Linked DNA regions of Homo sapiens. The protein of the gene in region 2 binds, or shares a complex with, the protein of the main gene of each other region. Each region holds a gene or a part of one and is shown on either strand. Other genes may lie near its edges. The genes, in order: TUBGCP6 and TUBG2.

Region 1 (3,814 bases), on a different chromosome or scaffold from region 2:
AGCACCCACACCCCCGTCCACAGCAGCATCCACATCCAGGTCCACAGCAGCATCATCCACACCCCCTGTCCACGACAGCATCACCCACACCCCTGTCCCTGGCAGCATCACCCACACACACCCATGGCAGCATCATCCACACCCCTGTCCACAGCAGCATCCACACCCAGGTCCACGGCAGCATCGCCCACACTCCCGTCCATGGCAGCATCCACACCCAGGTCCACCGCAGCATCATCCACACCCCTATCCACGGCAGCATCCACCCCCTGTCCACGGCAGCATCAGCCACACCCCTGTCCACAGCAGTATCCACACCCCTGTCCATGGGAACATCATCCACAACCCTATCCACTGCAGCATCATCCACACCCGTGTCCATGGCAGCATCCACACCCCAGTCCATGGCAGCATCTACACCCCTATTCACGGCAGCATCATCCACATCCCTGTCCACGGCAGCATCATCCACACTCCTGTCCATGGCAGCATCCACATCCCTGTCCACGGCAACATCCACATGCCTATCCACATGCCTGTCCACGGCAACATCCACATGCCTGTCCACAGCAGCATCCACACCCCCGTCCACGGCAACAACATCCACAACAGCCAGGGGGAGAGGAGCCTGAGCCCCCAACAGAGGAGGATAAACACAGACCGTCCGTGCAGACCCCTGCCCATCATTCAGCCTTAAAAAGGAAGGCAGCTCAGACACGTGCTCCAGAAGGCACGGCACTCAAGGACGCCGTGTGGAGTGCAATGAGCCATCACAAAACACTGTCTCCACAGGGACGGCGCTCGAGGACGCCAAGTGGAGTAAAATGAGCCATCACAAAACACTGTGCAACTCCACTTACATGAGGTCCCTACAGTGGCCAAAATCCTAGAGACAGAAAGTGGAGGCCAGGTGCGGTGGCTCATGCCTATAATCCCAACACTTTGGGAGGCCAAGAAAGGCAGATCACGAGGTCAGGAGTTCAAGACCAGCCTGGCCAACATGGTGAAACCCTGACTCTACTAAAAACACAAAAATTAGCTGGGCGTGGTGGCGGGCATCTGTAATCCCAGCTGCTCAGGAGGCTAAGGCAGGAGAATGGCTTGAACCCGGGAGGTGGAGGTTGCAGTGAGCCAAGATCGTGCCACTGCACTCCAGCTTGAGCAACAGAGCAAGACTCCATCTCGGAAAAAAAAAAAAAAAAAGTGGAGTGAATGGGGAGCTGTTTAATGGGTTCAGAGTTTCCTGCAGACTTGCTGTGCAGCAGTGAAAATACACACAGCATTACAAAGCTGTACAACTGGTTAAGACGGTAAAAACATTATATAAATTTTACTGCCCCACCTCAGAAAAACCGTAAGAGATGGATACAGAAAAAAAAATTCACAATTTTTTTTTTTGAGACGGAGTCTCGCTCTGTCACCCAGGCTGGAGTGCAGTGGCACGATCTTGGCCCATTGCAACCTCTGCCTGCTGGGTTCACACCATTCTCCTGCCTCAGCCTCCCGAGTAGCTGGGACTACAGGCACGGGCCACCATGCCTGGCTAATTTTTTGTATTTTTAGCAGAGATGGGGTTTCACCGTGTTAGCCAGGATGGTCTCGATCTCTTGACCTCGTGATCCGCCCACCTCAGCCTCCCAAAGTGCTGGGATTACAGGCGTGAGCCACTGCACCTGGCTAAGTTCACAAATTTTTAAGACAGTAACAGGTAAGGTGGGCTGGTACAGGCAGCCCTGGGCACATGCAACTCTGAGGAAATTTGCCTTCTGCTGGTGCTGAGGCTGTGAAACCACATGTACTGGCACTACACACACTCACACCCCCGTCCTCCCTGCGAAAACAATCAGCTCCAAGAAACACACTTTTACTGGCCACCTCTGCTATGAAGAGGGTGGGCTGGAGGGGGCAGGAGGAAGGAGACCAGCCCTGAGATGTCCAGTCAGCAGGTGGGGCCGCTCTGGACCCCAGACGCCTGCCCAGGCTCCCTCAGGATGAGATGAGCATGAGAAAGACACAGCCTCTCAGAGCCTCTGTCTGCCCCCTGCATTTCTTCCTGCAGATGGCCTCGGCAGGGGTGCAGGCTGTGGGCACAACCCTGTTTCCCCCTGCAGCCACTTCCACCCCATCTCCTCCAGGACTGGCCCCCAGCACTGCCATGGCTGCACACCCCTCTTGGTGACTCAGAACTGAGGGAAAAAAAGCCCACAGCGGAAACACAAAGACACAGCGCAGGATCCTGCAGGCTCTGGAGTGAACACCCCCCGCCCCAACAGGTCCCCAGAGAGAACACAACCCAAAATGTAGCAAAATGCTTCCCCCAGATGGGTGGCACATGCAGAGAAAGAGACCATTCCAGGGTCTGAAAGGCCTCCCTCCGCCTTAACCCAGCCCTTGCAGCTCAGCAGCAGGGAGGGCCGTGAGCAGTCGGACAATGGTGGTTCTCAGGGTGGGCAACAGCAGGGGCGAGTGGCCCCCCGTGGGGTCTTGGGACCTGTGGGAAAGCAGGGTTGATGTCTTGGAGAGTGGAGAAGGCTCAATTTCTGGCTAGGCGGCAGTTTCTTTAGCCACCTGCTGGTCAGAGCTCATCACAGCAGGAAACTAGCAGGTGGCTGGGATTTAAAATGAAACAAGACCAAACGATTTGCCAAAGGAACTTGAACCACAGCATCAGGCTGACCCGACTGCAGTGTCAGGGGCCGTGGGATCAGGGAGTAGAGGGGCCCAGGAGACGTAAACTCAGGTCCAGCCACTGTGTGGCCCTGTGCAGGTCAGCCACTGGACACTGAGATGACCACAGCACTTTCACTCTGCAGGGCCCTGGGCAGAGAAAGTCCCTACAGGAGCTGCCCAGGCTGTGCTCAGCACACTGCCAGGCACACAGCAGCACCTCCCTATAGGAACCACCGCCAGGCCCCACCGTGCCGGAGCTCCGCAGCCTAGGAACCACCGCCGGGCCCCACCGTGCGGGAGCTCCGCAGTCTCCAGCGTATTCAGAACAGGGTGATGAGGAGAGTGAGTGACCATGTCTCCTCATCAGCAACCCGAAAAAATGAACCTAGAAAAGGGGGAGTTAATAAATGAAATACAGCCAGCACGGTGGCTCATGCCTGTAATCCCAGCACTTTGGGAGGCCGAGGCGGGTGGATCACCTGACGGTGGGAGTTCAAGACCAGCCTGACCAACATGGAGAAACACCATCTCTACTAAAAACACAAAATTAGCCAGGCGTGGTGTCCCATGCCTGTAATCCCACTGTAATCCCAGCTACTTGGGAAGCTGAGGCAGGAGAATCGCTTGAACCCAGGAGGCAGAGGTTGCAGTGAGCCAAGATTGCGCCATTGCACTCCAGCCTGGGCAACAAGGACAAAGAAAGAAAAAGAAAAGAGAGAGAGAGAGAGAGAGACAGACAGACAGACTTATGAGGGAGAGTTTGGGGGACCTAGTTTGTTTAGGATGAAAGGAGTTGCCTAATTATGGTGAGCTGAAGAATGTTCCAGGTGAAGGGAACCTGGTGTTGGAAGGTTCTGAGTTTTTACAAAAATTAGCTGGGCATGGTGGCAGGTGCCTGTAATCCCAGCTACTCAGGAGGCTGAGACAGGGAGAATTACTTGAACCCGGGAGGCGGAGGTTGCAGTGAGCTGGAGATGGTGCCACTGCACTCCAGCCTGGGCAACAGAACAAGACTCCGCCTCAATAAATAAATAAATACAAAAAAAAAACAGAAAAAAATACTATTAGCAGACATGTACAGAATAAAGCAATAACTTGTAGGGCCAGTTTTTTTTTTTGTTTTTTTTTTTGAGACGGAGTCTCG
Region 2 (2,926 bases):
GTGCCTAATGCTTTGGGCCTAGAATGGAGAGAAGCTTGGGGCAGATAACAAACCCACGAATTTCTCTGGCACAGAAAAGTAACTCAGGATGTGCTCAGCCCTACTCTTGAATTCTGTTTCTACTTATCAGGTTGGGTTGAACTGGATTGAGTTCCTGGAACTCTCATGGCCCTGGGCACTGGGAATCTGGAACCTTGGCTCTCCTGGCCTGCTCAGAATGTAGTGTGCCCTCCTTCAGTAGACCCCACCTCCTCTGCCCTGAGTGGAAGAGGTTGGGGCAACATTGACCCTCACTGGGGCAAAGCTTAGGCGCTGAGGAGACAGCAAACCTCAGTAAAGCTCTGTAATCTTGAGACAAGGGCTGACTCTAGTAATACTAAACAGCCTAGTTCAAGGTGAGGGATGCCAATGGAAACAGTGAACACACTAAGATTTGGACTAAGTGATAAGACGTTGGAGGAGGTGAAGGCCACCCTACTGTCAGATGCCTAGAAACTGGACCCCTTCACCACCCCCCCGTATTCACAGATCAAGCCCTGGCTATACTGACAACCAAGCTTTATTACTTTATTAGAGCTGAACAAGCATATTAAAAGTTAGGGCATGGAAGGGAGGAAGCAGGACCAGCTCACGGGCTGGAGATGAACCAAGAAGGGTTGTCCATGAGGTGAAGCTGGGTCAGAGGGAGCAGGCATGGTCGAGGCTGTGGTTACCATCTAGAAGGAGAAGGAGTAGTGGGGAGGGAAATCACTGCTCCTGGGTGCCCCAGGAAATGTAGTCTGGCTGGGTGGCCGCATGGTACTCATCAATGAGCTCCTGAACAACCTCCCTAGACCTGTCCATCTCATCAAAGTTGTCCTTGAACATGTCCTCCTTACGGAACTGCTCGAGGAAGGCATCCCGCTTCCGCAGCTTGTCAAACTGCTGGCAGGAACTTTCAAAGAGCTGAAAGAGATGAAAATCTCCAAAATGCGAGCCAGGGGGTTAGGAGTGAACTTGGGGAAGATGATGAAGGTGGCCAGTGGAACAGACTCTTCTAAGAAGAATAGAAACCTAGACTCACCGAGGAGATGCTGGTGTGGTTGGCCATCATGAGCCCGCTGACCCGGTGGGCCGAGGGCAGGTAGGGAGACTTCCTCGACAGGGCCACCTGGATGCTGGCGGGGCCCCACGGGATGAAGTTGGCCAACTTCCGTTCCCGGATCCTCTGCAGGCTCTTGTGGACCTGGGGTGGGCATAGGAGCAGTGGAGGTGGCCTCTCCTCTACCCCTGCAGGTCCAGGGCGCGGGATGAAGGGGCCTCCCCTACCTGGGTGGGGTCCACCTCTCCCTGGATGATGTTGAGGATGGCGATGTAGCAGTGGTTGGTCTGGCGGTCTCGGCCTGTGGACACCATCACGTTCTTGGGCTGCAGCAGCCGCCTCATGACATCCAGGACCGTGGTCTTCCTCACGCTGGCCACCTGATGGGACAGTGAGACAGGGACCCGGCCAGCGCTCAGGGCACAGTCCCTTTGGCTTCTCTTTGGCAGAAGCCAAAGGCAGAGGGAGGGTGGAGAGAAAGTCAGCAAGAAAGTCGCCCGCTCTGTGCCAGTCCCTGAGCGCAGTGCCTTGGGGCCTGCAAAGGGCAGCTCCTGGGGCAGTGGGGAAGAGAGAAAGGCTGGGGCAGGGCCTGCTGGGCCCAGGGCCAGCCTGGCCTGGGACACTGAAGGCTGCTCTTACTGACTGGTCTGTAGTGAGCGGGGTGTAGCCGGTCATGAGGAAGTGGAGCCGTGGGGTGGGAATGAGCGAGGCGATGAGGCCGATGAGGTCATTGTTCATGTAGCCGGGGTAGCGCAGGGTGGTGGTGCTGGCCGACATGATGGTGGACACCTGGGGACAGGCGTGCCATGTCATGGGGCTCGGCCTGGGTGGGACCTTCCTTCCCCAGATGACCCTCCAGCAAGGAGGGCTTCCAGTCCAAAGGAGTCCGGGAGTGGGGGCCCACCAGCTGGTTGATCTGGGAGAAGGACGGGTTCTGGATGTGCAGGCGGTCTGTGGCAATCCGGTTCAGGGCTGTGTTGTCCAGCACCACCTGGGGGGACAGAAGAGCATCACAGCATCTTGAGGATAAAATGGGCATAGAAATAAGATATTGGCTTAGCCCCTGCTGAACTCCAAAGCCAGGAAGTAGGTTTGTTAGTTTAAAAAAAAAAAGTACTGAGGCCGGGCGCGGTGGCTCATGTCTGTAATCCCAGCACTTTGGGAGGCCGAGACGGGCGGATCACAAGGTCAGGAGATCGAGACCATCTTGGCTAACACGGTGAAACCCCGTCTCTACTAAAAATACAAAAAATTAGCCAGGCATGTTGGCGGGCGCCTGTAGTCCCAGCTAATTCGGAGGCTGAGGCAGGAGAATGGCATGAACCCGGGAGGCGGAGTTTGCAGTTAGCCAAGATCATGCCACTGCACTCCAGCCTGGGGGACAGAGCAAGACTCCGTCTCAAAAATAAAATAAAATAATAAAATAAAATAAATAAAATAAAATAAAAGTACTGCTGGGCATGGTGGCTCAGGCCTGTAATCCCAAGGCCAAGGTGGGAGGACCACTCGAGGCCAGGAGTTGGACACCAGCCTGAGCAACACAGCAAGATGCCATCTCTGTAAAAAATATAAATAAAAAAGTATAAATATATATAATATATATATATATATATAAATATAAATAAAAAATAAAAAGAAAGAAAAGTACTGTTTCTGGGGCACCATGAGATACTCTCGGACTACGCAGGGCAGTAAACAAACACGTGAGTACCCACATGTGCCATACACTGTGCCTGGCTCTGGGAAGACCACAGAGAGGAACAGGCACCGTCTTTCCCTTCATTAGGCCTATAGTCTCGTGGAGGGAGGCACACTAAATATAAAACAGAAAATTATAGTTAACTC

The links.
Region 1: TUBG2 (region 2) and TUBGCP6 share a complex: the UniProt entries of both Homo sapiens proteins name them as parts of the gamma-tubulin ring complex.

Annotation. Positions count from the first base shown.
Region 1 is NC_000022.11:50,234,756-50,238,569, forward strand, and holds part of TUBGCP6 (gamma-tubulin complex component 6), read right to left. Parts: intron 1-3,814. UniProt on the Homo sapiens protein: Component of the gamma-tubulin ring complex (gTuRC) which mediates microtubule nucleation.
Region 2 is NC_000017.11:42,664,622-42,667,547, reverse strand, and holds the end of TUBG2 (tubulin gamma-2 chain), read right to left. Parts: intron 2,073-2,926; coding exon 1,986-2,072; intron 1,871-1,985; coding exon 1,721-1,870; intron 1,462-1,720; coding exon 1,309-1,461; intron 1,226-1,308; coding exon 1,064-1,225; intron 946-1,063; coding exon 748-945; 3' UTR 542-747; downstream 1-541. UniProt on the Homo sapiens protein: Tubulin is the major constituent of microtubules, protein filaments consisting of alpha- and beta-tubulin heterodimers. Gamma-tubulin is a key component of the gamma-tubulin ring complex (gTuRC) which mediates microtubule nucleation.